7 linked regions of the Homo sapiens genome follow. The protein of the gene in region 1 purifies or fractionates together with the protein of each later gene. This does not show direct contact. Each region holds a gene or a part of one and is shown on either strand. Other genes may lie near its edges.

Region 1 (4,482 bases):
TGAGTGAGCTGTGTTCCCCATAAAAATCATATGTTGATGCCCTAACACCCAACGTGACTGTATATGGAGACAGGATCTTTAGAAGGTAATTAAAATTAAATGAGGCCACAAGGGTGGAGCCTTAATCTGATAAAATTATGGCCTCATAAAAACAGAGAGAGATCTCTCCTCTGTCCCTCCACCTTGTAAGAACACAGCAAGTCAGCCATCTGCAAGCCAGGAAGAGAGGTCTCAATAGGAATCAAATTTGCCGACACCTTGATCTTGGACTTCTCAGCCTCCAGAAGCATAAGAAAATAAACTCTCGTTGTTTAAACCACCCAATCCATGACATTTTATTATGGCAGCCAAGGAGATAAAAGACAGGCACAAATCCCACTGTTGGGCTACAACTGCCATGGAGGGTAGTGCTATCTGTCTACACAACACCCACTGCCCATGACCTCCGTCTATGGAAGCCAACGTTGTTCAGGCACACAACACTTTGACAGCCATGGGACACGGCAAAGGTGTGCTGCTTCCTCCAGAAGGCATTTTCTTTCTTTCTTTCTTTCTTTTTTTGAAACAGAGTCTCACTCTGTTGCCCAGGCTGGAGTGCAGTGCTCGGCTCACTGCAACCTCTGCCTCCCAGGTTCAAGGGATTCTCGTGCCTCAGCCACCCGAGTAGCAGGGATTACAGGCATGCAAAACCATGCCTGGCTAGTTTTTGTATTTTTAATAGAGACTGGGATTCACAATATTGGTCAGGCTGGTCTCGAGTGCCTGGCCTCAAGTGATCCTCCTGCCTCAGTCTCCCAAGGTGCTACTGCACCCGGCCCCAGGAGGCATTTTCTAACAAATCTAAATCATTGCTTCTCAAACACCTCGTGCTTTCAGAACCACTTGGGGATGCGTGATTCCAACCTCAAACCAAATGAAACAAAATTTCTTCGTGTGAGACCTGGGCATCAGTACTTCCAAAATGTGCCCCCCAAAATTCTGGTGCCCAGATGGGGCTGCAAACCACTGGCTGAGGCTGGACATGGTGGCTCATGCTGTAATCCCAGCACTATAGGAGGCCGAGGCAGGAGGATCACTTGAGGCCAGGAGTTCTAAACCAGCCTGGCCAACATGGTGAAACCCCGTCTCTACCAAAAATATAAAAAATTAGCCAGGTATGGTGGTGTGCACCTATGGTCCTAGCTACTCAAGGGGATGAGGTTGGGAGGATTGCTTGAGCCTAGGAAGCAGAGGCTGCAGTGAGCTGAGATCATGGCACTGCACTTCAGCCTGAATGACAGAGCAAGACTCCATCTCAAAAAAAAAGGAAAAGAAAAACCAGTGGTTGAAATAAATTGGTAATGCAAGAGTCTTCATTAGGCAGGTGACCAAAGCTGGATTCTCATTGTGAAAAGAAAGCATTTATTCCAAGGTGGGAGGATGGATTGAACATGGGGGCCTGCTGCCCCAGTCAAGGCTGCAGCACCCAGCATCCCTATGAGGAGCCAGCCTGAGGACAATCAGAAGCCTGAACCAAGAAGAAGGAACAGAGAACCAAGACATCCTTGATGGCGTCACTGGGCTGCGGCACCGAACAAGCCTGGAGCCAACCACACCTCAGGCTTCTCATCAGGCGAGTTAGTGAATTTCCTTCCAGGTGAAGCCAGTTTGATCTGGTTTTCTGTTATATGCAGCCAAATGCTTTCCACTAGATGTGGTGAGTAAAAGACAGGAGGATTCTGTATAGAAGACCAATGACTGAGGTACAAGGATCCACAGAAACATCGACTGGCAGATTCTGAACCATAGCCCAGGATTCCTTCAGACATGTCACAGTAAGGTCCACCAATGTGTGCTACATGCCTGGCTTTGAGTTCTGGGACAGGGCTGTGGGAAAGGTGAATCAGATGATCCTTTGGCTCTCCCAAGAGCTGAGCTCCCTGTCACTTTTCACACGCTGGTTCCTCCACCTGGAACACTGTTACCCTCTTCCACCTCCTTCTATCCAGCTAACTCCTACTCAGCTTTCAGGTCTCAGCTCCACTGTCACTTCCTGAGATGCCCTCTTTGGAACTCCCACAATAGGTTATGACATCCTGCTTATTTATTCCTAAATTCCCCTCATTTTTCTTTCTAGAACTTATTTCAGTTGTCATCTATGGATTGATGTCCACCTTCCCAACTGAACTCAGAGTGTGCCATCAATTCTAATAACTTCTTTATCCTGACCCACTTTTGTTAAATATTGTATTCTAAAAGGGAACCTTGTTTTGCTCTGGTAAGTGAGAAAGTCAATTTCCCTTCCTACAAATAGAAGTCTGCAATCACAACACAACAAAATCAAAACAATGCCACTAAGTCCCAGGAAACCCTTGTATGTTTCTTAGGGCTAAGTTGGAGGTTGTCCCCTCTGTTAAAAAAAAGAAATGAACTGCACTGGGGGAGTGAAAGGAAAATGAAAGACTCAGCGCTGATCTGAGACTTTTCTTTTTTTTTGAGCCGGAGTCTTGCTCAGTCACCCAGGCTAGAATGCACTGGCGCAATGTTGGCTCACTGCAACCTCCGCCTCCCAGGTTCAAGCGATTCTCCTGCTTCAAACTCCTGAGTAGCTGGGATTACAGGCGCGCACCACTGCGCCCAGCTAATTTTTGTATTTTTAGTACAGACGGGGTTTCACCATCTTGGCCAGGTTGGTATTGAACTCCTGACCTCGTGATCCACCCGCCTCGGCCTCCCAAAGTGCTGGGATTACAGGCGTGAGCCACCACACCCAGCTGATGAGACTTTTATGACAAGAATTAGCGTGCTGGACAGAGAAAGTAAAAGGAATGGCTTTATCAGGGTATCAAACCATGCCATTTGAGGACATTCCTGTGTACCCTCTAAAAACACCTCCTGGATCAACAGAGCATGGATATCAAGCATCAGAAAACAACTAATGACCATGCAGGCACCCAGATGCCTTTTTACAGAGATTGTATTGCTTAGGAAGATATCCGAGGGGCACTGAGGACAAATGTCTTCTGGGGGGCTGCCTGACTCACCCCTTTCTCTAAGAACAGCCCATCACCCATGGCCCCTGCTTAATAGGGCTGTGGCCACAGCTGACCCCACCAGGATGGCCAATCAGCTTCCTTCTTATGCAATCTTGATTAAGGACCTCAGAATGGGCTGAGCACTGGAGTGAGGGTTTGTGTTAAAAGGACATTTTCTACCCCGACAATCTCTGATGCAGACAAAGGGAGACCAGTCAGGAAGAGGTGGGAACAGAAAGGTCTGTCAAGAGAAAGGTGGGCAGTTCCAGTGACCTTTTTGCCTGGCCAAGAATCAGGGTTAGGGTCCTCCTCAGGGATGAGAGGTGAGTCATTACCTAGTGAAACCAGAAGCCCACAGGTCTCCAGCATCACCTCTCGGTACAGGGTCCTCTGGGCCAGGTCCAGCTGTCTCCACTCCTCCCGGGTAAAGGTCACAGCCACATCCTTGAAGGTCACCAACATCTGGAAAGTCAAACAGAAGTAATGCTATTGGCCTTGTGTTGTCGCATAGGATCAGAACCTGTCACTCAGTCTCTAGTCAATGTGCAGAGAGATCCAGGTCTGAATCAACTAGGTCTCCTTTGGGCTGACTTCCGTGCAGGGCTCAAAGGGGAGGCAGATACTGCCTTTTGACAATGCAATTGTGCCTGAGAGAAAAGCCTTCTATGGGGAAGCTGTTGAAGATGACACAAACAATGGCAATCCCACGAGGACTATGGGAAGCAGAGAGTAAGTACTCTGGCATATTAAAAGAATGGAGGAAAATGACTGATACTAATCCAACCACAATAACAGCAACAGCAGCAGCTAAGTGTGGGGGAAAGAAAAATAGATCAGACCGTTACTGTGTCTATGTAGAAAAAGGAAGACATAAGAAACTCCATTTTGATCTGTACTAAGAAAAATTCTTCTGCCTTGAGATGCTGTTAATCTGTAACCCTAGCCCCAACCCTGTGCTCACAGAAACATGTGCTGTATTGACTCAAGGTTTAATGGAGTTAGGGCTGTGCAGGATGTGCCTTGGTAAACATGTGTTTGCAGGCAGTATGCTTGGTAAAAGTCATCGCCATTCTCCCGTCTCGGGTACCCAGGGACACAATGCACTGCGGAAGGCCACAGGGACCTCTGCCCGAGAAAGCCTGGGTATTGTCCAAGGTTTCCCCCCACTGAGACAGCCTGAGATGTGGCCTCGTGGGAAGGGAAAGACCTTACCTTCCCTCAGCCCGACACCCATAAAGGGTCTGTGCTGACGAGGATTCATGAAAGAGGAAGGCCTCTTTGCAGTTGAGATAAGAGGAAGGCATCTGTCTCCTGCTTGTCCCTGGGAATGGAATGTCTTGGTGTAAAACCCGAGCGTACATTCTATTTACTGAGATAGGAGAAAGCCGCCTTATGGCTGGAGGTAAGACATGCTGGCGGCAATACTGCTCTTTACTGCACTGAGATGTTTGGGTAAAGTCAAACATAA
Region 2 (4,482 bases), on another chromosome or scaffold:
AATATCTGACCAGGAAAACTACCAAACATCCTACAATTCATAGGGTAGCCCCACAGCAAAGAATTTATTCAGCCCAAAATGTCAGTAGTGCTGAGGTTGAAAAACTCGATCACAGAGCAAGGAAAATACCTACTCAAGGAATTAATGTCGATGTTTTTGTCAAACCACTTGAATGTAAGATGCAAGCATCATGATGCTTCTCTTCTAAATACTCCTTAAAAAAAAAAAAAAAAAAAAAGAGCATTATCCTATATAATGACAAATCCAGAAACAGGGGCCAGGACCTTTGCAGACTCCAGTGGATAGTGTTGAAAGAGCTGTGAGAGAAGTTTTGTAGCTAATGCAACAGTGTTTCTGCCACTGGAAAAATCTCTCTCTCTACATGCCCCTTCCCTGGCCCAAAGACCTTTTGAAGGAAGAATTGATAAGTTGACTAGAGTAGCTGAACCCAGAATCAAATTTTTTTCTTTTTTTTTCTTTTTTTTTTTTTTTTTTTTTTAGAGACACAGTCACTCTCTGTCGCCCAGGCTGGAGTGCAGTGGCGCGATCTTGGCTCATTGCCACCTCTGCCTCCCAGGTTCAAGCAATTCTCGTGCCTCAGCCTCCTGAGTAGCTGGGATTACAGGCGCGCACCACCACGCCCAGCTAATTTTTAGTATTTTTAGTAGAGACGGGGTTTCCACATGTTGCCCAGGCTGGTCTCAAACTCCTGACCTCAAGTGATCTGCCTGCCTCAGCCTCCCAGAGTGCTAGGATTACAGGCATGAACCACCGCGCCTAGGCCAGAATACAATTTTTCTAGAGAGAAAAATAGGATATAATCTATGAATATGAAAAAAAAATATATATATATATATATATATATATAATTTCCAAAACCTATTGTAATTGTATTGTGAAAGTTATTCTTAGCTCTTTTTTGATGAATTGAAGTTATTATGCTGAGGTACTTATAAACCAAGGTGATACTCAAATAGAATTCATTAGAACAATATGGCTTACCTGATGATATATTTATTTCAGGCAGTGTTCAGTAGCAGAAGGTTTTAAAAAATTAAAAAGCAGAATGATTGGAGAGGAAGGAGTTTAGGGGAAGGGGCATATTTGAAATAGAATGCTGGATTTAATTTATTTCGGTAAAACCACTTAGGTTACATCATTTAATATATTCAGCAGATTTTTGTTGTTGTTGCGGTTTTTTTTTTTCTTTTTGATACAGAGTCTCACTCTGTTGCCCAGGCTGGAGCGCAGTGGCGCGATCTCGGCTCACTGCAACGTCTGCCTCTTGTGTTCAAGCAGTTCTCCTGCCTCAGCCTCCCAAGTAGCTGGGACTACTGGCACCTGCCACCACGCCTGGCTAATTTTTTGTGTTTTTAGTAGAGACGGGGTTTCACCGTATTAGCCAGGATGGTCTCGATCTCCTGACCTCGTGATCCGCCTGCCTCAGCCTCCCAAAGTGCTGGGATTACAGGCATGAGCCACCACGCCCAGCTCAGATATTTGTTATATGTGCGTGTTGGGGAAATGATGATGACAAAGTAGGCTCAGTAGAGCTTTCAGCCTAGTTTTTATTTTGTGTTCCACAACTAGGGTAATTGTGCTAAAATTTAGCTGTTACTTGAAGAAAAGTTTCTTTTTGTTTTCCATATCCAGTTAAGTTCCAAGTGAAATTTTTCTGACTGGTTATCAAGAAATTTCAAAATTGATGAAGAAGTATAGCATTTTGCTCATCTCACTGAATTTCAAGTCTTAATAAGCAATGAGTTATAATCTGTCACTGTCTGTTTATTTTGATGCTAGAATTGTGAATATATAATTTATGTTAATATATTTTTATAATGTCATCACCATGATTACTAATATATATAACTGTATTTGTATTTTCTCCCAACTACTAAAATGCTTACTATAATTTGCTTCTAAGTTTTATTTAACTCAGTTGTTCTATGTTGTTTATGCATGTGCAAACATGAGAGAGATTACCAGTCTTTTATTGTAGATTATAGTGTGATACTAACTCTTGCTTTTAAAATAAACATGTTTTTGTCAGATGACTTGCAGGGTGCACAGTCAGAAATTGAGGCAAAGCAAGAAATACAGCATCTTCGAAAGGAATTGATCGAAGCCCAGGAGCTAGCTAGAACAAGTAAACAAAAATGCTTTGAACTTCAAGGTGAGATCAAGATTACTTTGGTTCTTTAGGGATGTGTGGAGGCAGCACAATATAATTGGGTGGCCCCAAACTTGGAGTCCGGAGGCATGTTCCAGATTCACAACTTTATGAGATATGTGATCTTGGTATATTTACTTGACCTCTCTAAACTTGTGTTTCAGGTCAGTAAAATGAGGAGAGTTACAGTTGCTCTACCTTCACACTGTTGATGTGAAAATCAAGTAAGATCTTTACTAACTGAAAGATCTTAATAGTTAATTGCATATTAAGTACAACAGAAGGAAAACTCAAATTTCTAAATTTTTATTATGCCTAATGTTAGCTAATGTCCTGGCCACATTCTTTTCTAGTAGCTCACTTATCTATAGGTCATAAGCCAGTGGAGTCTGTGCAGTTCCCTAGAGCTTACATTTCTGTATCATTCATAGTAACTACCTGGTTGCAGACAATTAGTATCTCAAAGAGTCTTAAAATGAGAAAGGGAATGACTTCTGGAGCCCTCATGTTCTCCAAGATGGCCTTCCTGCCTAGTAGGAAGATTTACATCCCAGGAGGGAACTAGGAACTTCTTGTTACTACTTCTTTCCTTTCCTAATTCTCAAAGAAATTAGAATTGGTATTCACTTAACTTGAACCTTTTGGAGGATCCAGGCTAATATATTAAATTACAATGAAAAAATATTTGGTAAATAGCAATTATTTAGTTTAGTGTTTACTATGTGCTTGACAGTAAATATAAGAATTTTAAGTCTTTTTAAAAAATTAAGTTCAAAATGCTGATTAACAATTATCAAGACTGTTTCTCATGTTAAGAAAAGCACATATTGTCTTGGTGATACCAGGTCCAGAAAACTCCACTACTCAGTTGAATAGATTTATTACTTACTACAGTTCTGTGCTCCTAAAATCTTTAAACTAACTGCTAATACTGATAATACTTACTGCCTAACTTTTGTTTCTTTCAATAATCTTTTAGGAGAGAATTTTAAAAGAAATTTTCAGCTGCTCAACTCTGAGTACTTTCATTAATTCACAAAACTATTAATAGATACTGTGTTTTTACTTTTAGCTCTTTTGGAAGAAGAAAGAAAAGCCTATCGAAATCAAGTTGAGGAATCCACTAAACAAATACAGGTTCTTCAAGGTATGGAAGACCCCAAGGCTCTTTGAGATTGTTATTGTGTGTTTGTTTTTAGTGATTCAAAAGGAATGGAGGCCAGGCGCAGTGGCTCATGCCTGCAATCCCAGCATTTGGGAGGCCGAGAAGGGTGGATCTCCTGAGGTCAGGAATTCGAGAGCAGTGTGGCCAACATGGTGAACCCCTGTCTCCACTAAAAATACAAAAATTAGCTGGGCATGGTGGTGCATGCCTGTAATCCCAGCTTCTCGGGAGGCTGAGGCAGGAGAATTGCTTGAACCTGGGAGGTGGAGGTTTCAGTGAGCTGGGATTGCACCACTGCACTCCAGCCTGGGTGACAGAGCAAGACTCCATCTCAGAAAAAAAAAAAAAAATGAAATGGAAAGTAAGAAGGCAGAGAGTCCCCATTTTTCATGGCTTTGATTCTCTAGAACCTCACATTTCAACACGGCTCTTGGTGGAGCTTTATTTATTTATTTGTTTTTGAGACAGAGTTTCGCTCTTGTTGCCCAGGCTGGAGTACAATGGCGCGGTCTCACCTTACTGCAACCTCCGCCTCCCAGGTTCAAGCAATTCTCCTGCCTCAGCCTCCTGAGTAGCTGGGATTACAGGCATGCGCCACCACACCCAGCTAATTTTGTATTTTTAGTAGAGATGGGGTTTCTCCATGTTGGTCAGGCTGATCTCAAACTCCCAACCTCAGGTGATCCACCAATCTTGGCCTCCCAAAGTGCTGGGATTACAGGTGTGAGCCACTGCGCCTGGCCTATTTTTTTTTTTTTTTTAAAGAAAATTCAAGGGAAGATTGTCCAGTACTCTCGTATTAGACACTTAGAATGGAAAAAGCAGAGGTGAAGATTTGGAGTTGGTAAGACTGTCACTTTCTGAGTTATGTCGTGAGTTCCTACAGAGGGCCTTTGGATAGGAAATCTGTTTGAGCTACTCTGCGTCAGCACTTTGAGCTTGCTGGTATATGTATATATTGATGGCTGGTGTAGATATATTGCCATCTAATGCTCAGAACACACTTGTATTGCAAGAAAATATTTTTTTGCTTGTTTTTTTGAGACATAGTCTTGCTCTGTTGCCCAGGCTGGAGTGCAGTGGTGATCTTGGCTCACTACAACCTCCGTCTCCCGAGTTCAAGTGATTCTGGAGCCTCCCAAGTAGC
Region 3 (4,482 bases), on another chromosome or scaffold:
AATATCCATCATCCAACTGGATCTTCATGTCAGTGTCAGGGATGCCAGGTTGACAAAGTATTTAACAGATCCTTTCAGTTTTTGTTTTGTTTTTTTAATTCTAAAAAAAACAAATGTTAGGCCAAACAGATCCCTAGATCCCACTCATTGATTCTGGCGGTATTCCTAAAGTGGTGCTTAGGGGGTCAGAATTTTCTGGATCTTTGCTAATCCAAGCTTTAGATTTAATTTAACCAGGACCACATGCTTGTCATCTCTCTGATGCAAATTTTCAAAATCATTTTAATTTAGATTCTAATGTCTGCCTGGGTTTTTAACAGGCTGTGAACCAGTGAGTGCCTTGTTAATGTAGAATGATTTTTCCCCCCTGGGTGGGTGTTAGTTAGCTCCTCTCTGAAAATGTCTCAGAGAATGGTATTTTAATTGACTTGTAGAGAGCTGCTAAATTTGTTATTATCAGCAATCAGAAAGTCTTTGGTCTACCACACATCTCCCTCCCTACTATCTCTTCATTGTTTGGCTGAAGTTTGCCTCTTGTGAGAAAACAATACAACTCCCCTTCTCCACACACTTTTTTTCCAGCCCAGATTAATAGGTATCCCCTACCCTAATCCCAACTCTATGATCTAATACCTTTTTTAGGAGGAACCACTTCTTTTTAATATTGAAATCTGCTGGTTACTTTATGTTTTCTCAAGTTCAGTTGACTAGAGCTGACCACAGGGTGTCATCAATTCAGATTCCTAAATAACCCTTTCTCTCCACACCCAGTCCTCCAGCTGGTGAGCCCTGGGCCAGATTGTTTGATCTTCAGGTATTTTAAATTTTAGTTACATCAATTAATGTAAATTAATCCAAATGCTAATTTTTGTGGTGCAAGAAGTTTCTTATGTAAATTCAGGGTATGGATAAGCTAATTAAGATATCCATCTTTGGTGGCTCTAAGTGTATTATTTGTTTTTAAATAAAGTGTACAAATATAGATAACATGCTATAGGTGTCTCATGAATTGGAATATTTGTCAGATTTGGGATCTAGCTGTGGCTTTACAGTAATCAGTTAAATTAACATAGTCTGATTTGGGGCTTTTGGGGGAGGAGTTGTAGAGGGGTGCAGAGAAATAAAAGGATATTAGACAAAGTATACATGAGTCCAAAATTAATGAACCAGTCTTAATTACTGATTGTGAGGAAGGAGAAGTTTATAGAGAATTTGGGCCTCTGAAAAGCCAAATTAAAATAGCTTCTAGGATTGGGTCAGTGGTACTTTCAGAGACACATATGTTTAATGAATAGGTTTTATGTTTTTCAAATGTTCAGTTTAAATGGCTTTTAAAATTTATACACATATATAAATACAATGTTTTTATTTTTTGTTTCGCTACTTAACAGACATACACAAGCCTTCCACACTCCCTGCCCCTTCAAATCAACATTATTTTTCAAGGCCTTTGGCCTGCCCAGAACTCACAGTCTTTTTGTTCCAATCAGGATCCACAATACAATATGAAATTTAAAAGGCATCTCTTCTGATATCCTTGAAACTATCCACCATTGTTTGGTGTTCTGTATGCTGGTATACTAATGAGTATTATATCCTTTGGTATGTACACACATTTTCAGTAGTGTTGGAAACACCTCTTTTATCTTTTTAATGAGAACTGAGACATGATTAGCTTGAGTAATTTTGGAGATCTATCTCAGGAGGTCATTAAAACTCCAAAAATTATTCACGGATTGATGAACCTCCTGGGGTCAGCCTAAGATTGCCAGGTAGTATTCTGACCTCCTCTGGGTTTCCCAAGATCACTGATGTTTTGCAGGGCCCCAGCATTGTCCTGGCACATAAAATATTCCCAGAACACCTTGGGAGTCAAGCATACCTTTTAACCTAAACATTATAATCATGGAGCATCCCTCCGCCTGTTACTTCTCAGGATGACCAGAACACTCCAGTTCTCTAAGGAAGCACTGACATACGGCTCTGAAAATTGGAATCCGTTTTCTGAAACACAAATTTTAACTCAGTAAGTTTTGTATATCAAATGATTCAAAACCCACCAAACATAAAATGACTCGCTTCTAAGTATCACTCAAACCCTACAAAACCTAACCCTTTCCTTATTCCTAATTGATATTTCACTAAAGGTAATGGTAGTTTCAGTTAGATTGGAAGTCATTATTTGGGTGAGCAAAGTCTGCAATAACCTACTGATAGGAAGGACCTATTTCATAGAAAAGTATCTTGTCCTTGGTGATTTAGCCATTCACCTTACGTGAAGAGTGGTCCAGATGCCAGCTCCACATTGACTTTTTCTGTGTCCCTCTTTAGGTAATTAACCCAGTGATGTAAAGGAGAGCCCACAGTAAAACATCTGTTAAACAGCACTTGGAGTACTATAGTGTTATTAATTTATGTGCTATAATTTCTTATGCCATCATAAAATCTAGTGTATGTACCAGGTTCCCAATTCATTGCCTCAAACAAAAGATTTTTAAAAATTCTAATAGCATCAAATTAAGGGTAATGGTAGGGAAACCCATCATCCACAATTAAATATGCCCAAACTGAAAACTTTAAGAAAAAAAAGCACATGGAAAGCAACGTTTTACATTAATCGTGAGTTGTAGAAATAAACAGCTTGTGGTTTGTATATGTGCCGAAATGTTAAAGTATGCTGGCATCCAACTACTTCCCTTTGGAAATGGGACCAAGACAATAATTTTTCATGCATAAACAAAATTAACTTAGAGCAAAAGTAATTTTATCAGAAACAGTTTATTTTGGGGGCTGGATAACTTGGGTGAGAGTGTGGGGAAAGAAGTACCTTACCAAAAAGGAGAAGCAACTGACCCTGTGGCCTGAGCCACATTGTCTTCCATTTCAACTTCAATGGGCTGGCAGTATACCACTTCTGACCTCAAAGAATGAATGGTTCCAATTCTGGCTTGTCATTGGTCCTTGTTATCTAAATTAAATATTTTTAGGAAATATATCAAAAGTATCCTAGAGCCCCATGGCAAAGTGTCAGAGGAAATAGTTTTCATTATATTTTAGGAAGCTGTAAAAATATAAGCCCAAGTATTTTGTGTCATCTGCATATGTCAGGATGAAGACCAGGCATGTAAGAAATATCCTAAAGTAGCCAAGTGATAATCTCATGAAAAAATATGAGAATCGTTTTTACAGAGTGAGTTCTCTTTTGAATGGTTTTGACTATGCTTTTAAAAACATTTTTAAAATGTACTTACATCTTTTTCGATAGCCCACGTATTTCAGAATATCCTCTTGATAGAATAATATCACTCAGTGTGATTTTTAGAAAAAGAAAAACTCGGTGGTCTCATATCTTTTGACAGTTGTTTGTGAATAATACCCTCCCCAACAACCTTCCCAGTACTCAACTGCTATGTAAGAATGCTTTCTTATGTGGTAAATGTCTCAGTATTTTGCTGCCTGGTATTTGTTCAGTTTCCTTGTATATCTCAGGGTCAGAAGGAATCAGGCTTTCTCCCAACTCTGAAACATTCAGACTTACTTTCTTTTTGGTCAGCCTTTTAACAAGCAAGACAATAAACTCCTTTTGTCAGAATCGATTTGATTAAAAAAAAAAAAAAAGAATGTGCTCCTTATTTCTCATTGCTGTAGAATACGTAGGAATACACATCTACTAATCACAATTAAAAAATAAGAGAATCTTTAGAAACATCATTGCTTTCTGGAGGTAGAAATTTTGAACTTGAAGGTTGTAGTTCCAGGCAATTTTGTGCCCTTGAGGTGTCCAATTGATAGTATAGCTTGCCTCTGCTAATAAATACACAAAAGTTTTCTTTCCTGTGATTTTCAGAAATTATTTTTGGAATACAAAGATTAATAAGGAATATGTGATGTTTATCTCCTGCATTTCAAAATCTTCTGGATTTTTTTTGAGGCATGAGGAGCAGGTAATGAGATTTTTTTTCTGAATATCTTGATTCTCTCCCTTAACCCAGATTTTGCATATTATGCATTGCTCATTTGTCACCTACAAAAATAAAGGTTAATGATTATTTGTTTGCTTTTGTCTATATAAGCTCCCTAAGGCACAGACCATGTTCGTTTTTCTTATGTTCCTCTTAGCACTGTGCCTGGTGCCTTGCCATATAAAAGGTACCCTATAAATATTTGTTGGCTGAGTAATCAGAGAGCCCATTTCAAAATCTAAATTATACAAATCATCAAAGACCAAAAAAAAAAAAAAAAAATCTCTTGACAGTTGATGCTCAAATGCATTTGGTTCTGTGGAGCTTATCCTGAGATTGAGGTCTGCACCTTGACTGGAGAGGAATTTGGACTTTACCTCACAGGTAGCAACAAAATGCCTGAGTAGCAACGTCTTTATACTGCACAGTTCCAGTCCTGCCTGCGTGAAAACTGAGCAGAGCATGGTGGGGACAGGAAGGTGTCCCTAAACCCTGTTGATGACCTCCCATCTATCCCCGG
Region 4 (4,482 bases), on another chromosome or scaffold:
TGGAACTGAACATTTTAGCAGGGCTCAAATAATCAGTGTGGGGAGTTCTCCCCTTTTTCTAATTCAAGCTCACCTTGTAGAAATCAAATCTGAGAAATACTGTTATGGTTCTGTAGCAAGAAAGAAGACAGCGAAGTGAAATATTACATATGTAACTATATATTTTCTTACGAACTTCAGGCACTAGGACAAGAAGCAGATGAACATGTATAGCCAGTATTGGGCCACCATGCCCGTCCCACCTAGACTCATACCTTGTCTCATCCACTCGACCTCGTCCTCGGTGACAAAGCTGCACAAGGCTTTTGCCATTGCCAGTCGTATTGCTCCAGCCTGCGCTGACCTCCCGCCCCCTGAGACTGTGCAGGTCACGTCGTGCTTTCCCAGCCGGTCAACAAAGTGGAAAGGGAACATCAGCTGTTCTCTAAAGCACAGCACAAGTAAATGTGGTTACGTTTACTATAAAGATACATAATTATGTAAACAACTGAAATTCTGAATATTCATAAAAACAATATTCTGCATGCCACTGTTATACTTTTCATACTTCTCAATCAATCCATTTTACCAAGATATAGAAACACTAACATTTCTGACATTTTGAATGATTTGCTGAGAGATTAAGATTTATTTCTTTTGCTTGGGTATAGCAACACACTCTTACTGTTTGCTGATCCCCTTTATCTCAGAAGATCTTTTCAAAGCTTGAAAATAATCTCGTAAAGAAGTCTTACAGTTGGGGAACTCCATTAATCAACTGAATTTAATGTCTCTGGATTGAATGATCAGATATAAAATCAATAGGCCTTTCCAAACAATTATCACATGTCATTTGGATTCACTAAATAAAGTCTACTATAAGTGTATCTGTATAATGTATAATGCTCATCTTGATATGGTTAGTTTTTAAAGTTTCTAAAACTATTTTCGACCTTGCACTTCCCTGACACCAAACACCTATTCCCAATATTCTTAAAGTTCTCTAAATCATAGGGTCCTGCTACCTTCCTGGGGCCAGGTGACATTCTACACAACCCCTGTCAGGCCTGCTCTTTCAGGGTCGGTCAGGGCCTACAAGATCCTGGGGCAGGCACCACAGACAAAACACGGCCCTGGACTTTCTCCTGCTCAACTGAACAAGTATTTGTTGAATATCATTTTCACGCCAGGTAAGATGTTCACCATTACCTCTGTCAAGCACTTTGATTTTGCTATTTTGCCTTAATATCTTGCTACACTTTTATGCAGAAAAGCTCACTTATATTGCGTTTGCTTTCTTTGATGCTGTAGCTTCTAGACCCAAAATCAAGTTTATATAACACAGTTAAGCTGAGAGACAGGTATGGACAGGACATTCAAGTGCTATTCTTCATACCACACTAGTAAAATAATCACAAGCAGATGGGCAAAAGATGACTTTCAAAAGCCATAGCAAATCGGAATTTATAACAATACGATGTAGGGATGACATAACTCCTACAACAACAAAAAACTCATAAATCTATACTGTCTTTTTGAACAAATGCTTCCAAGAAACCAAATGAAAAGTAGCCATAAGTTATAAAAACAGTATTATAAGTAGTATCTATTAATATACTATGATAACTAAAGAAAATTTAAGCTGAGCACCTAAAGTACAAGCTACTCAGGAGGCTGAGGTGGGAGGACTGCTTGAGCCCAGCAGCTTGAGTCCAGTCTGGGTCCAGAAGTTTGAGTCCAGCCTGGGTGACATAAAGAGACCTTGTCTCTTAAAAAAAAAAAGTAAATATAAAAGAAAATTTAGGCTGGGCGCAGTGGCTCATGCCTGTAATCCCAGCACTTTGGGAGGCCGAGGCGGGCAGATCACCTGAGGTCGGGAGTTTGAGACCAGTCTGACCAACATGGAGAAACGCCGTCTCTACTAAAAATACAAAACTAGCCAGGCATGGTGGTGCATGCCTGTAATCCCAGCTACTCAGGAGGCTGAGGCAGGAGAATTGCTTGAACCCAGGAGGCGGAGGTTGTGGTGAGCCAAGATTGCACCACTGTACTCCAGCCTGGGCAACAAGAGCGAAACTCCATCTCAAAAAAAAAAAAAAAAGAAAAAAAAAATGTACAGACTGAAAATCTAATTCCACTATTGCATTTACCTCGACCATCTGGCTCCATGACTCAGTTATATATCCAGTAATTACATTATGAAATCTATTTTTCTAGATTTTAATTGAAGTCTCTTTTTATTTATATAAGCATTTGTTAAAGAATCATAAAATTTTAAAAATTAAGCCAGGAAAGTGTTTAAGCTCCCAAACAAATGGCTGTCCAGAAGCCTCCCTTGTAACTTCACTTACGTGGCTAACCCACTTCACTGTGTGTTAGGTGATGACAGAATTCCGATCAAGATCCCTGATTCTGGGTTGGTTAGTCTTCCTATTAGTCAATGGTCACCTCACTGCTGATTTGTAAGTTCCTGAAGTGACTGCCCTAAATCCTTACAACTACTTTAAAATAGTTGTAGGTGCCCATTCCCACCAAGACTAGGCTTAGGCTTCCCAACCATGTAGGAAGTTTCTTGACAATAGGAATCATATCTTAAATATCTCTGATATCTTCACAATGCCCAGAACAAGACTGGAGACATAGATGTCCTTAGTAAAAAGCTGCTGAATTCAAACCAAAGAATAAGATCTAAAGATGTAATTTCATTATGAGATCAAGCCAGAATTGAGACTTGCTGTTAAATCATCAGGAGTTATGTCTGAATACAAATCAACAGACAGGTTATTGGTTAAAGAACAGTCCTCCTATAGTTCCCAATGTTGAAGTTATCAAACCCTGGGGTATGGGTTTCTCTCTGGCTTTTCCTAAGGGAAATAAAAGCTTCTTCCATCCCCTGTCCTGTGAGGATAATAGCAGAACTAATTCATCTTAAATGGAGTTAAGAATGCACTGCTTGTTGACACAGGCACACACAAATAAAATAAACACACATTTCCTAAAATAATTATTGTGTCCAGAAGCTTACACTGTATTAGGAGGGTCCTCTTTTGCCTATATCAGCATTGGTATCAAAAGAGTTTTAGCCCTTTTGACCTTAAATACCGTAACACATGCAGGAAACAGGAGAAGGATTAGGAAAGGAGGAACTAATCATACCAAACTTCTGTTACTCGTGGATAATGACAGTAAGTACTGGGAAAATAATAACCATATCAAGAAGAGGCCTTTATATAGCAAGTCAGAGAGAGTTCTGAGATGAGTATATTTAGATTAGAAGAGCTGTAGTATCTATTTATGATTAATGTCTATTTCTCCATAGGATACAAAGTTTAAAAATTAAAACTGCCATATTTAGCACCCAGAACTAAGCAAAGCCTGATGAGTTCTTATTTTAACCCATAAATGCTAGGTTTCTTTGCTTGCTCAATATATATAATCACATTCCTCTGAATAGGAAAAAATCCAAAATGATAAAGCAGAATTTTTCTAATATTTATGATCAGAAAAACATACACAAGCCACAAGAAATTACTTGCACTTTTCTTTGCCTTGTGAGTTAGGTCAGTTTTAAGTGCCAAGGCTGGTTGTTGTGGTGGTGGTTTTGTTTTGTGCACGCCCATCCCCAAACTAGAAGGTGGAAATCTAAATCAAAATTTTTTACATTTTGGCACAGTCTGCACTTCAGAACATAAGCTACATCTAAGACTACTCAAACTGCAGTAGGATCTGATGAAAAGGGGAAGAAGAGTCAATTAATGAGGAATTCTAGAGATGCTTTTTAAAAAATCTGGAAGCTGCTTTAAAAAATAGCTTCAATTAGCTAGTTTGATATGTTACATTGGTAAAGAGAAATAATCATTCAGATAAACAGAATTAGAAGATCACAAGCCTTCTTAAATGATCATGATGTATTATAAAGTATGTTTCCTTTAAAAACAAAAAATCAGAACCCAAAACGAACCTGTCCTGTGTGATCGGGAAGTAAAGCTGGTAATCAATTCCATTTACTTTTATTCTTCCACTTCCATGTTTATAAACAATTGCTTCTGCTTTTGCAGTCTTTCTTTTACCTTCAAAAATATAAAATTCCTATTAGTAAATATCTTGAAGACCTGCGCTTTGAGACAGGTAAAACTACATTAAAATTTGTTTCCCCAAAATAATACACAACACTGTACATAAGCAAGTCCTATAACTATTATTTCAAGTCAAACAAAAATAAAGCAGGTAAACTACAGCACAACAGATGCAATAAAGCTCATTGTGGGGTAATTTTGTTCTTCAATTCCATTTTAGAAACACTACAATGATTTTAAATTAGTTTGAACAACCAACAAAGTAATTTATATTCATTTCCCTTACGAGAATCCACAACCAATTTACATAGCATTCTTCTTTTATAAACAGTAAGAATATATCTAACAACATAAGTTTTAGAAATATATAAATAGTATGATGAAATATAACTAGTAGAAATAAAAAAATACTCAGGAAAGGTCACAT
Region 5 (4,482 bases), on another chromosome or scaffold:
CGTTAAACCTAAAGGAGGGACTTCTAAATAATAGACTTTATACCTACAATAAAAATATAACTGACATATCCCAACTCCATACTAATAATGAAATGCATAAAAATTGTAGGATATATAAGGCAAAGAGTCAAGAGACAAATATGAAGCATTAACTTTTCTCTATGCTCTTAATAAAGCAAGAGCACAAAAATAAACAAGATGTAGAACAGTGTTTTTCAAACATTTTTGACTGAAACCCACTGTGAGAGACATATTTCAGATTATGATACTAAGCACACAGATTGTTAGATTTGCAAGTGTAACTGAAAGAAAATGTGAGCAGCTCTTACTATAAGCAATACACTTTGATAATTTTCTATTTGTTCTACTCCATTAAAAATTGTAGTTATACATATTTAGTCAGGACCCAAGAAATTGATTTTATGACACAATAAATGTTTATGATCCAGTTTGAAAAACAAAGATATAATAAAACTCATCTATTATTCGACATATAATTAAATCTGTACTTAGATTATGTTTTCTTTCCAAGCACCCTTGAATTTTTACAGAAATTAAATATTAGGCCACAAAGAAAATCTGAGTTAATTTCCCCCAAAGAAGAAATACTACAGACCACATTCTCTGGTCACAAAACAGTGAAATTAGAAGTAAATGTTAACAAAAATATGCAAGCAAAATTTCTGCCAGTTGGAAATTTTTTAAAAAGAGACAAAACCTCATAAAAATGGCTTCTAAACAACTTTCAGGTCAAAGAGAAAACAACAACAACAAAAACACATCAAAATCTAGGATACATCATATATATGACACTATAAAAATTAAAATAATCTGGTAAATTAAGATTAGAGGAACAGATTAACAGACCCAAAGATGCAAACAAACATGGGAATTTTAGACTATAATGATGACATTTTAATGTAAGAAAAAGGATTTTTCAATAAATGAAAAACTGACTAGTAACTGGTGAATAATGAACAAAGGAGAAAACGATATCACCCTTTCTTTAGTCCCTATAATGAAATAAAATTCAGAGGAGATTTAAAGTTAAAAATCAACACGAAACCCAAAGTGAGATACAAACTCATGTCCATTATGTTGGCTATTATCAAAAACACAGGAAATAACAAGGTTGGAGAGGATGTGGAGAAACTGGAACCCACCACACTGTTGGCAGAAATGTAAAATGGTGGAGCACCTATGGAAAACGGTATGGAGGTTCCGCAAAAAATTAAAAATAGAATTACTATATGATCCAGCAATACCACTTCTGGGTATACAACCAAAAGAACTGAAAGCAGGGTTTCAAAGAGAATATTTACACATTCATGTTTACTGCAATACAATTCAAACAGCCAAGATGTGGAGGCAATCCAAGTGCCCATTGATGGATGAATGGATAAACAAAATGTGTATATACACACAGTGAAATATTATTCAGTCTTAAAAAGGAAGGAAATTCTGATATATGCTACAACATGGATGGATCCTGGGGATGTTATGCTAAGTGATGATTCCACTTTAATGAGATACTTAGAATAGTCAAATTCATAAAAAGACAACGTAAACGGTAGTTGCCGGGGGCTGGGGGAATCAGAAATGAGGAGTAGTTGTTCAATGCATAAAGAGTTTCAGTTTCACAAGATGAAAAGAGTGCTGGAGAATAGTTGCATGACAATGTATATGTATTGAACTGAATGTACTGAACTGTACACTTAAAAATGGTTGAGATGGTAAATTTTCTTATGTGTATTTTATCATAATTTTTAAAATTAACAGACATACTAGAGGAAAATATGAATGAGTATATTTATAGTGTGGTAATGCGGAATGCAGAAGACTTAGAGGAAAGGATGAACAAGGTGACCACATAAAAATCTAAAATTTTTCTATGGCAAACAACAAAGGGGGTGCTATGGTCTGTTTGTGCCCCACTCCCCAAAACGGTATGTTGAAATCTTAACCATTATGGTAATGGTATTAGGAGGTGACATTTGCTGGAGGGAGGAAGGGGTATTAGGTGATGGGGGCAGAGCACTCATGAATGGGATTAGTGCCCTTATAAAAGAGGCCCAAGAGACCCCTCACTCATTCAGCCACATGGGGTTAAAAGATTGTGGTCTAGGAATAGGGCCCTGAGATACCTAATCTTGCAGCACCTTGATTTTGGACTTCCCAGCCTCCAGAATTGCCAAGAGTAGATTTCTATTGCTTATAAGCTACCCGGTTCATGGTAGTTACAGCAGTTCTAACAGACTAAGACACGTGGAATTTAAGATATACTTACAAATAATTTATCGGAGAGACATGTATTAGAAAAACAGAAAAGCATAAAGAAACACAAAAAATCCAAATGGCTAGTAAATTTATGAAAACATACTTAAACTAAAAAATAAAGAAAAAGCAACAATAACATACTTTTGCCTATTAGCTTATTAAAGATAATAAAGGTCTGCAATATTTTAGACAGGTATGAAAAAGCAGACATCAAAACCAAGATGTAGTCTGATACAAACTAGTGAAATTTGTGTGTAGGGTGAAGTGACAATGACTAAAATAATATTTCTATCCCCCTCCTCCCCCCCACCCCCCTTTTTGGGACAGAATCTCACTCTGTTGCCCAGGCTGGAATGTAGTGTAGTGATCACAGCTTACCATAACCTCAAACTCCTGGGCTCAATCAATTCTTCTGTCTCAACCTCCCAAGTGGCTAGGACTACAGGTGCACACCACCACACCTGACTAATTTTTTCATTTTTTGTAGAGACAGGGTCTCACTACATTGCCCAAGCTGGTCTTGAACTCCTGGTCTCAAGCAATCCTCCTGCCTCGGCCTCCCAAAGTGCTGCGACTCTACAGGCATGAGCCACTGTGCCCAGCCAAATACATGCACATTTAAAATGCACTTAAGATTCCTACTTACTTTTGAGTACTTATTGTACTTTCTGTTACAACAATTCAGCACTAACCCTTTAACTAAGTATTGCTTTTCAATTAACATTAACAGACATTAAGAAACCACAATGACTATCTACAGGTTTAACGATGGCTCACATTTTGGCCACAGACACCTACAAAAAGACTGAGTATTGCGCAATGGTCACGGAATTATGAAGCTAAAATGATACATTCAGTATCATCATTCAAAGGATAATAACCATTTTAATGTGGGCAAGGAATACAGAAAACTAAGCAAAGCCAGGAGAAGACTGTAAGACCCAAACAGTTGACTTTTTACTCAAGATCATACAATCTGTATGTGGCAGAGCAATACTCTCAGGAAATCTTTCTGACGACTGGTATAGTTTTAAAAATGTCTCTCACTTATCAACAAGTGCTACTTTCAATATGACAACCACCTTGAAAAGGCAACCACTCTAGAGGACTAAATCTATTTCAGCAAAAAAAAAAAAATTCATCAAACATATACTAAAACTTTCCTCCATTCCGCCAATGCCAAAATAATCTATGAACCCATCTATTTTTATCTCCTTCAATTATCCCCCCCAGGGAAAATATGTCTTTATTCTTTTGCACAGTTAAACAGTCCAACTGTTCTTCAGTTCTCATCACTTGATGCCTCTCTTCAGATACCTCCCTCCCTCAGTCCTTCCCTCTCCACTAGCTTCTTGTCCTTGGTTAACAAACGCTTGGCCAGGTGCGGTGGCTCATGCCTGTAATCCCAGCACTTTAGGAGGCCGAGGCGGGCAGATCTCAAGTCAGGAGATTGAGACCATCCTGGCTAATACGGTGAAACCGGGTCTCTACTAAAAATACAAAAAAAAAAAATTAGCCCGGCGTGGTGGCGGGCACCTGTAGTCCCAGCTACTCAGGAGGCTGAAGCAGAAGAATGGCATGAACCCGAGAGCAGAGATTGCAGTGAGTTGAGATTGCGCCACTGCACTCCAGCCTGGGTGACAGAGTGAAACTGTCTCAAAAAAAAAAAAAAAAACAAAAGAACGCTCAATTTTCAATAATCCTGAAACATATTTTCTTGACATTACTTCCCAATCAGGTTACCTATTTCTCTCTTTCCTTTCCTGAATGAATAATCTCTATCTCATCACCATTCTACTGAAACTGTTAAAGGTTAGTAGTTACTTTTAATTCCAAGGAAACTGGTCACTGATCAGTCCCCACTCAACTTGACTTCTCTACAGGATTTGTTACTAGACAACTAAATACCAAACTAGGTATTTAGGTATCCAGGACACTATCATTTTCTATGACTATTCTAGTCATCCTTCAAATTTTTCATTGGTTTTCCTGCCCATTGTCAAATGATGTTTTTTATTGTACACCCTGCTTAGGACATTGATGAGTCCCAAGTTCTAGGGTTTAGACCACTCTCTGAGCTCTAATATTCAACCATCTACTACCTTGGTACTAAAATAGGATGGGTAATGCAAACACAACATAATTTTTAGTATCTTTCTCCTAAACTCACCTCTTAATTCAGTCCATGGTGTCAATCCTCCAGCT
Region 6 (4,482 bases), about 11 Mb from region 1:
CCCTCCAGTAACTCTCCCCCTGCCCTCACTTGTGGTGGCTGAGGCTTGGGGCTGGGATGGGAGCAGAATCCTTATGTAACTGCTCTCACTTCTGTCCCACTCTCTACTTCCGAAGCTCTTTCCCAGCATACATCTCATCAGATCTTCACAATGCCCTGTGATGTAGGCAGAGGCAGTGTCATTACCTCACTCAGCAATAACGGTACCAGCTGCAATTTAGTGAGCACATACCATGTCTGGGGCGCTGTATCAAGTACTGTAGATACGAGCTGTCATTTAATTCTTGCAGCATTCTGGGAGGATAAAGGATATTCCCCCTACCTTTAAAAAAAATCAGGAGAGGAAATGGAGGTTTTGAGAGGGTGATTTATCTAGGATCCCAGCAGATGAGCAGAAGGGCTGGTCTGTGGTGGACCTTTTGTTTATTTATTTATTTATTTATTTATTTTTATTTTTATTTTTTTGAGACAGAGTCTCACTCTGTCACCCAGGGTGGAGTGCAGTGGCATGATCTTGGCTCATTGCAACCACTGCCTCCCAGGTTCAAGCGATTCTCCTGCCTCAGCCTCGCAAGTAGCTGGGATTACAGGTGTGCACCACCACCACGCCTGGCTGATTTTTGTATTTTTAGTAGAGATGGGGTTTTGCCACGTTGGTCAGGCTGGTTTCGAACTCCTGGCCTCAAGAGATCCACCTGCCTCGGCCTCCCAAAGTGCTGGGATTACAGGCATAAGCCACCATGCCCGACCGTCGGTAGACTTTTAAGCCCATGTTCTGTACCTCTCTGCTACCCAGTACAGTTGAGAAAATTGGTTCAGGCAAGCATAGTGGCCTCCCCAGGGTCACCCAAGCAGTCATAGCAGAGCTTGGACTGAATCTTGGCCTCTGGGACTTTGCACCAGTGCACCGCACAGCACCCACCACACCATCTTCTCATCCTGGAGGCTGATGAGAGAAAAGATGTTTATCCCCTCACTTACTGACCCTTCTTGGAGTTTGAGAGGAACTTGTGTCTGGCATGGTACCAGCACTGTCACTTTGTACTTTTGTTTTCTTTTATTCTGTTAAGTTAGTAAAAATTCAGACATCTCAGAGGGGTGTGTGTGTGTGTGTGAGTGTGTGTATACACATATATATGTAAGTGAAAAAGGAAAGTTCCTTCTCTTCGTCCCTTTCCTGCTCTTCTCTCCTGAGAGAGAAGAGTTATTGTGCTTATGTAATAGATGAACTACTGCTGTATGTATCATTTTGTGACATAATAATCTGTTTTGGTTTTCCTTTCATATCAGCACAGAGAACTCTTTCTTTTTGATAGCTGCATAGCGTCCCACGGGATGTTTGCACCATAGCTGATTGAGTTTGACCCTGGTTGGTGGACTTTTAGATTTTTTCTAGTTTTTCCCCCATCAGACATGGCTGCAGTGAGAACCCCTTATTCCTGTGCAAGAATGAAGCAGAACAGATGAGTGGAATAGTAGAATGGATGTGTTTATGAAACAGTGATTGGGCTGGGCGCGGTGGCTCGCGCCTGTAATCCCAGCACTTTGAGAGGCCAAGGCAGGTGGATCACAAGGTCTGGAGTTCAAGACCAGCGTGGCCGATATGGTGAAACCCCACCTCTACTAAAAATACAGAAATTAGTCGGGCGTGGTGGTGGGCGCCTGTAGTCCCAGCTACTCGGGAGGCTGAGGCAGGAGAATCGCTTGTACCCGGGAAGCAGAAGTTGCAGTGAGCCGAGATCACACCACTGCACTCCAGCCTTGGTGACAGAGCGAGATGCCATCTCAAAAAAAATAAAAATAAAAAAAGAAACAGTGAATGACTCTGCCACATTGACCCACCAGTTTACTCTCCCATCAGCGGCACCTCTTTTACACACCTTTACTTGAACACTTAGTGCTAACAGACGGTGTGACTTCCCCTGTGAGATCCCTTAAGAGCTAGGCAGTGTCAGATTTTCCTGATGGACTCTGAATAACTTTTCTCTGAAGAGCTTAATACAGCTGCTCCTAGCAGAAGACCTGCCGTGCGACCCTGCTTGGTACCTGTGTGTTGAATGGCAGAGAAGGCAGCCCCCAGGGAGGTCCTGCCAGTAGTCACCATAAGTTTGGAGCAGGAAGGTGGCGGAGCTGCAGTCTGATAATGAGCAGGCATTTGCTAGGTGGGGGATTCTGAGAAGTAAGTAACGTGGTTTCTGCCCATCCGAAACTTCCAGGCTGGCAGAGGAAGCTTGTTTGTGCAGGGGACCGCAGAGCTGTAGATGTTCATGCACAGTTGATTGTGTGGCTCTGCCCCTGTTCTGTGGCAACTCTGAGAGGGGAAGCTTTTTGAGGATGGGAGGGACCTTTTAATGAGGGATCTGAACTGGAGATTTGTATAGGAGCAGCGACAGGGACCTGCAGTGAGTGCGGTGCCAGCAGAGAATGTGCGGAGCTGCCCCTGCCCACTTCAGCTTCCTGGGGGCCCATTCCTGCCAGCAGCTGCTGAAGCTTGGGAAGGAGGCCCTTAGGAGATGCAGGGCTAGATGGCACGAAACGGGGACTCTTCCCAGCTAGCTGGGACAGGAAGCAGCGAATTCAGAGAGGCATCAGCTCCTGGGAGGACTGAATTGCTGGGACTCCTCCGAAGCCTTTAGATGTCGCCTTGCTGGGAATAGCTGGAGGGGCGGAGAGGCAGTAGCTGCCAGGTATCAGAAGGTTTTGGGAGCGCATGCTCTGCGGCTCTGGCTAGAGGGAGTGGCAGTGGGTGGATATGGTGAGCGGCACTTCCAGATCCCCGACCGACCCTCAGGCCTACCTTGGCCCTCGCAGACCAGACAGCCCGTGGGGGCTGCTGGCGTTTGCAGCGAGGGAGAGACTGGCCACTGACGCTTCCCGTTTTTGGTGGGTTTCCACCTCCCTGAGATGCTCCAACCATGTCTTTCTGGTTCTCTTTCCAGAGGCACTGGGAAAGGGACAGCAAAGCAGAGTGGGCAGCTGAGACCCTCACATCCTCATTAGGAGGAGGGAGACCACAGCTCGATGAGGCAGCAGAGGGATGAAGGGGGAACCCAGCCAGTGACAGGTCTGGTTGGGATGCCCAACTCCACCTCCTGCCCCCACAGATAGACCACTACTGTGTCCACTGCCCCGGCCTAGTCCAAGCCACTACCGTTCTGTCCTGGGATTTCTGGGACTGCCCTCATCTGTGATGGGGGTCTCTGTGTCCAGCTCTGCCGCTCTCCTGCTCCCTCCCTCTAGTCTCCCTCCAGAACTCCCTCCAGTCAGTTCTCCATGTTTTAGCTGGAGCTGCCTTTATAACATGCGAATCGGTTACCTCTCTGTACTTAAAACCCTTCCATGGCTTCACTGAGCCTTTTACAGGTTCTGAAGCAGCCATCCTGGCCTTTTTTAGAGTTCCTTAAGCCCACCATGCAGCTCTTGTCTCCGTCCTCTGCCAGCAGGGCCCTTCCCTCCCCTGGCTAACTTCTCTTCAGCTTCAGGCCTTAGCTGAATTGTCGCCTCTTGTCCCTCTTCCCATAGCGTCCTTCGCTCCCGCAATGGGGTCCTAGTCACATTGCATGTGAGTTGCTGCTCATGCCTGTCTCCTGCATGGGACTGAGCCCTGTGGGTGCAGGAACCACATGGCTCCTCTGTTATTCCCCAGCGCCTTACTGGGGCACCTGATGTGTGTGGGCAGTCACCAAACAGTGGCAGGTATTGACCAAGGTGTAGGTTCCCGGCAGGCTGAACTGCCCCTGGGAGGTTGAGGGATCAATCACCAAACCCCAGGAGGGAAGGGAGGAGAGTGAGGAGGAAAGTCAGGACTTGTCTTCGGTGGTCGGTCTGCCTCTCCTCACACCTTCTCCAGTGATTCAGAGAGTAGATTTGGGGGACTGAGAAGATACACAAAGGACAGAAACTCATGCTTCAGAGATGCTGATGTCATATAAGTAGTTTCCCTGTCTGGCCTTGGATGTTTATATACATATGTGTTGGTAAAAAGTGTTAAAAAGGAAAAAAATTTCCCATTCTTGAAGCGGACAGATGAGTTTTCTTTTCTATAAGGTAACTGGTGACATGTATTTCTTTTTTTTTTTGAGACGAAGTCTGGCTCTGTCGCCCAGGCTGGAGTGCAGTGGCACGATCTTGGCCCACTGCAATCTCCACTTCCCAGGTTCAAGCGATTCTCCTGCCTCAGCCTCCCGAGTAGCTGGGACTACAGGTGTGTACCACCATGCCTGGCTAAGTTTTTTGTATTTTTAGTAGAGATGGGGTTTCACCATGTTGGCCAGGCTGGTCTTGAACTCCTGACCTCAAGTCATCTGCCCACCTCAGCCTCCCAAAGGGCTGGGATTACAGGCGTGAGCCACTGTGCCTGGCCAATCCACAGACATTTCTAGTTGATCTGGGGTCTCCAAGGGATCCTACCTCCCGTAAGGAACTGGGCCCATTTCGAAGTTGCGAACAATGGACAGGGAGAATAAAAATGATGAAAGAAGTA
Region 7 (4,482 bases), on another chromosome or scaffold:
ACATGTCTCCACCCATCCTGGGGTTGTGTATGGTTTTTAACAAAAATGATAGATTAAGGAAGAGTTTCTTTAGAGCCATAATGAAAATGTTTGAGATATATGTGGGTAAATCGATGGATGGGACGGTACCTGGAGATATATAAATGGTGTCTGTTTGATAGGCAGCAGCTTAAGAAATAGATGAACATGTGAGAGGATATAGAAGTCGCTTTCTTGATCCAGGTAAAGCCTCAGTTTTCAGTGATCTGTGAAGGGAATGCAAAACAGATCATCAGAAAATGCAAGGTATGCTGATTGTTTGGGATAGGAAAAGTGAGCTATATGAAAAATCAGTAGCCTATAGCTTTAATTGTTTAAAAGTTTTAATATTTAAGAAAGTCTGTTGACAAACTTGTTCATACTATCTGAATAAAGCATGTTTTTAAGTTTGATATATCCCTTTAATTTTATGAATAAACTAGTTAACATGTATTTCCAGGTTACTGATCCAGCAAAATTATAAGAAACATTAAAATTCTCTGAAAATTTCAGTTTTTTCCCTTTTTTCAAAGAGAAAAACAATTATAGGAGACTTCTCCTGGCTTCACAGTTTCTGGATGCTGTGTTTTTGTTAACTGTAACACTTTGAAATAGCATTTGCTAAAAACCTTTTTTCTTTCTCTCTTTTTTGGTGATGTGGCAGAGAGAAAGACATTGAGATGTTCCTTGAGTCCAGCCGCAGCAAATTTATAGGTTACACTCTAGGCAGGTGAGTAAAAGCCGAGTTCATTTTGCTGTTAGCTCTCCCGGCCTTTGGTGTTTGGGATCCCAGGTGATTTGATGTCGAGGCTCAACACAGGGCCTTCTTTATTCTCCAGTGACACGAACACAGTGGTGGGGCTGCCCAGGCCAATCCACGAAAGCATCAAGACTCTGAAACAGGTGAGTGGCTTTGGGTGAGCTTTTGGCTTGTTTGGTCCTAAGTGAGTAGAGTGAAACCAGCCTGTAGGGAGAAGCCTTTTAAGACTGTTGTCTGCCTGCAAGAACCTGGGGTAGAGGCCGGGGTGGACTTTGCAATAACCTTGCAAACAGTCTTTCGTAAGTTTTGCTTGTTTTATTATAAGTTTTACTTGTTTTAGCTGAGCTTTTGTTTGGGACTGACTGGGAAGTCTTTAAAGATTATATTACCTGACCACCGGGCACCAAGGCATGCACCTGTAGTCCCAGCTACTCAAGAGGTTGATGCAGGAGGATTGTTTGAGCACAGGAGATCAAGGCTACAGTGAGCTATGATCATGGTCCTGCACTCTAGCCTGGGCCACAGAGTGAGACCCGGATTCTTTAAAAAAAAAAAAAAAAAAAAAAAGGATTATATTACTTGACAGTTGTTGAAATTCTAAAGAGCTCAATAAATAGCCCTCCTTTTCCTTGCCCACGTTCTCAGGCGGTTGAAATAGAGGAGTAGGCAGATGGAGATTGTAATGCCAACTTTATAGCTCATAGAGCCATGGAGAATGAGGCTTAAGAACACAGCAGTAGTGTCCTAATACGTTGTTCCAGAATTAGGCAGAGTTACCTACCAGTCCCAGGCAGTGTGGGGAGGCTCTGCCAAGCTTGGTGGCGGGGAGGAGAAGAGAGCAGACTCTCAGCAGGCAGACAGGTTCTAAAGAGAAAAGAGAAGGGTGAGGACAAGTCCGCCCTGTGTCCCCTCCCATACTCTCCGATCAGAGAAGGGAGGAGTGAGTGTGTGGACGGGGCAGAGAGAGATGAGGGGTGTTTCGCAAACCCCTGTCCCTCCACACGGGAGAGAACATTAAGAGTGGGGAAGAGGCATCTCCCCTAACAGCTATCTGGAGTGAAACTGTTTTTATGTTTTTGAAATATATTTTTGGAATTTGTAGTACTAAGTGGTCTCTCTGCAGCTAGGCTTTTTGAGTACTTGATTTTGCTTTCAGTTTTTCTCCTGTTGCTGTAGCTATCTGAAAGGCCATTTCCCTCCTTTAATTTACTTTTTTCTTATCTACCATGGGCTTCTTACTGTAGTTGCAAGAGGAAGGGGCCCTTTTAGAAAAATATTTTGGGGCCAGGCATGGTGGCTCACGCCTATAATCCCAGCACTTTGAGAGGCCAAGGTGGGTGGATCACCTAAGGTCAGGAGTTCAAGACCAGCCTCACCAACATGGCAAAATCCCATCTCTACTAAAAATACAAAAATTAGCCAGGTGTGGTGGTGCACACCTGTAGTCCCAGCTACTTGGGAGGCTGGAGCAGGAAAATTGCTTGAACCTGGGAGGCGGAGGTGGCAGTGAGCCAAGATCATGCCACTGCACTCCAGTCTGGGCAACAGAGGAAGACTTCATCTCAAAAAAATAAAAATAAAAAATATCTGGGGTTTGGGATTTTAGCTAGGGATTTTTGTGGTGACTTAATCCTCTTTCAGAAGACTGTGTTTGAAGACAAATGTGTGGGGATTTTGCTAGAGTGCAGGGAGTTTGGCCAGAGAATGTTTTCCCCAGCCCTTCTTTTCCCATCTCTCCCACCAGCACAAGTACACGTCGATTGCAGAGGTCCAGGCACAGATGGAGGAGGAATACCTCCGCTCCCCTCTCTCAGGGGTAAGTTGGAGGTCCTCAGTCCGGGCGCGGTGGCTCACGCCTGTAATCCCAGCACTTTGGGAGGCCGAGGAGGGCAGATCATGAGGTCAGGAGATTGAGACCATCCTGGCTAACATGGTGAAACCCCGTCTCTACTAAAAAAAAAAAAATTAGCCAGCCGTGGTGGCGGGCGCCTGTAGTCCCAGCTATTCAGGAGGCTGAGGCAGAAGAATGACGTGAACCCGGGAGGCGGAGCTTGTAGTGAGCCGAGATAGCGCCACTGCACTCCAGCCTGGGCGACAGAGCGAGACCATCTCAAAAAAAAAAGTTAGAGGTCCTCTTCAGCCCCCGGGATCCCCAGCTCTTCCCAGGCATTGTGCTGGGATTAGACCACAAGGTTGCCCCAGGCCCTGCCCTCAAAGAGCTCCCAGTCCACCTCCCAGTGCACAGGCTGAGACACGTCTAGTGCAGGGTTAAGAATACAGACTGAGTCAGGAACCTGCCTCTGATGCCTGGGTCCACCACTTTATGGATGGCAACTTAGGCAAGTTACTGGGTCTCTCTATGCTTTATTTCCTTGTCTGTGAAATAGGAATAATAATACCTTTATAGGGTTATAATAATAAGGATGAACTGAGTTATTACAAGTAAAATGCTTGGCACATTGTTTGTGTTCAGGGTTTGCTGTTATCATCATTAACATCATTATGTACATCACTGTTTACAGGTTTTCCTCCAGCCAGCTAGGAAGCTGGCTCAGGAGATTGTATTCTGGGCTGGGGTTTTATGCTTGTACTCATTATGTTAAAAGGGAGAAGAAGAAGTTGAGCAAGTCCCTGCAGAAACCCTCTACCAAGGCTTGCTCCCCAGCCTGCCTCAGTATATGGTGAGTGGTGCCTGCAGTGGGACACTCCCACTACACTGGCCTTAGAGCAGGCCCTGCCGTCCTCCTGCCACCTGCAGACCAACAGGAGGACTGCTCAGAGCTTAATTTTGACCCTGGGCTCTCAGACCTGTGTCTGAATGGTCTACTCTTCCCAGATTGCCCTCCTGAAGATCCTGTTGGCTGCAGCACCCACCTCAAAAGCCAAAACAGACTCAATCAACATCCTAGCGGACGTCTTGCCTGAGGAGATGCCGTGAGTATCATTCTGTGAATGAAGCAGGTGGGGCAGAAGATAGATGGAGAAGGGCAAACATTTTCCTCTTGTCAGGTTGGTTGTTGTTGGCCCAGCTCTACAGGTTAAATGTAGGTATTTTTGACCCAAAAAAAGGAAACTACGAGATTAAAGAGTTTCACTGGTTGGGGAGATGGCTTGGTCCTGTTGGCCTGGATTCTAGTGTAGACTCTACCACTGAGCAAACTCCTGAGTGAATTGGGGAAAGTCATTTCCTCCTCTGTAAAATGAATGGGGCCACCCTGGACATTTCCCCAAAGCCCCACTCTCCAGCTGTGATTGAGACACCCAGGATGAGGAGGGTTAGTTTGTAGACAGCTTGCCAGCAACAGCTGAACCTGTGCCAGGTATAGAGACATCCCTTTTCGCCAGTGATTGGGCACGCAGAATGCTGGCAAATGTCTCAGGGCGATAGAGTGAGATTCTTCAGAGCTCTTCTGCCCTGTGCCCTGTACTTGTCTTTCATGTGAGAGTCCAGATTGAGATCATGTTCTACTTTGAGAAGGACCTGGACCTTGACCTGATCTTCTGCCTGCCTGGGCCACCAGCCCTGAGCCCAGCTCCTGGGTGGCTGTGGCCCCGGAGTATGGCAGTGATGGCCGGCTGAGGGAGGAGGCAGGGGTTGGCTAACACCAGAGGGAGGATCACAGAACACTAGGCCATCATGTGATGGTCCTTGGAAAAAAGGTTCTAGAGTCAAATACTGTATATTTGATTCATGGATTTCTCTT

Evidence for each region.
Region 2: the proteins of ZNF550 (region 1) and SLMAP purify together in Homo sapiens (affinity purification with mass spectrometry; 2 studies listed by BioGRID and IntAct, with this or other methods). This does not show direct contact.
Region 3: the proteins of ZNF550 (region 1) and STRN purify together in Homo sapiens (affinity purification with mass spectrometry; 2 studies listed by BioGRID and IntAct, with this or other methods). This does not show direct contact.
Region 4: the proteins of ZNF550 (region 1) and MRPS9 purify together in Homo sapiens (affinity purification with mass spectrometry; 2 studies listed by BioGRID and IntAct, with this or other methods). This does not show direct contact.
Region 5: the proteins of ZNF550 (region 1) and SMARCAD1 purify together in Homo sapiens (affinity purification with mass spectrometry; 2 studies listed by BioGRID and IntAct, with this or other methods). This does not show direct contact.
Region 6: the proteins of ZNF550 (region 1) and STRN4 purify together in Homo sapiens (affinity purification with mass spectrometry; 2 studies listed by BioGRID and IntAct, with this or other methods). This does not show direct contact.
Region 7: the proteins of ZNF550 (region 1) and STRIP1 purify together in Homo sapiens (affinity purification with mass spectrometry; 2 studies listed by BioGRID and IntAct, with this or other methods). This does not show direct contact.

Annotation. Positions count from the first base shown.
Region 1 is NC_000019.10:57,552,882-57,557,363, forward strand, and holds part of ZNF550 (zinc finger protein 550), read right to left. Parts: intron 3,477-4,482; coding exon 3,350-3,476; intron 1-3,349. UniProt on the Homo sapiens protein: May be involved in transcriptional regulation.
Region 2 is NC_000003.12:57,905,834-57,910,315, forward strand, and holds part of SLMAP (sarcolemmal membrane-associated protein), read left to right. Parts: intron 1-133; exon of another isoform or gene 134-214; intron 215-2,050; coding exon 2,051-2,173; intron 2,174-3,221; coding exon of another isoform or gene 3,222-3,242; coding exon 3,243-3,317; intron 3,318-4,482. UniProt on the Homo sapiens protein: Associates with the striatin-interacting phosphatase and kinase (STRIPAK) core complex, forming the extended (SIKE1:SLMAP)STRIPAK complex.
Region 3 is NC_000002.12:36,840,301-36,844,782, reverse strand, and holds part of STRN (striatin), read left to right. Parts: 3' UTR 1-4,482. UniProt on the Homo sapiens protein: Calmodulin-binding scaffolding protein which is the center of the striatin-interacting phosphatase and kinase (STRIPAK) complexes.
Region 4 is NC_000002.12:105,093,097-105,097,578, reverse strand, and holds part of MRPS9 (small ribosomal subunit protein uS9m), read right to left. Parts: intron 4,050-4,482; coding exon 3,941-4,049; intron 528-3,940; exon of another isoform or gene 425-527; coding exon 255-424; exon of another isoform or gene 181-254; intron 1-180.
Region 5 is NC_000004.12:94,213,736-94,218,217, reverse strand, and holds part of SMARCAD1 (SWI/SNF-related matrix-associated actin-dependent regulator of chromatin subfamily A containing DEAD/H box 1), read right to left. Parts: intron 4,481-4,482; exon of another isoform or gene 4,448-4,480; intron 1-4,447. UniProt on the Homo sapiens protein: DNA helicase that possesses intrinsic ATP-dependent nucleosome-remodeling activity and is both required for DNA repair and heterochromatin organization.
Region 6 is NC_000019.10:46,739,885-46,744,366, reverse strand, and holds part of STRN4 (striatin-4), read left to right. Parts: intron 1-4,482. UniProt on the Homo sapiens protein: Calmodulin-binding scaffolding protein which is the center of the striatin-interacting phosphatase and kinase (STRIPAK) complexes.
Region 7 is NC_000001.11:110,044,158-110,048,639, forward strand, and holds part of STRIP1 (striatin-interacting protein 1), read left to right. Parts: intron 1-161; coding exon of another isoform or gene 162-180; exon of another isoform or gene 181-530; intron 531-682; coding exon 683-748; intron 749-857; coding exon 858-921; intron 922-2,522; coding exon 2,523-2,594; intron 2,595-3,384; coding exon 3,385-3,459; intron 3,460-3,614; coding exon 3,615-3,712; intron 3,713-4,482. UniProt on the Homo sapiens protein: Plays a role in the regulation of cell morphology and cytoskeletal organization. Required in the cortical actin filament dynamics and cell shape. Part of the striatin-interacting phosphatase and kinase (STRIPAK) complexes.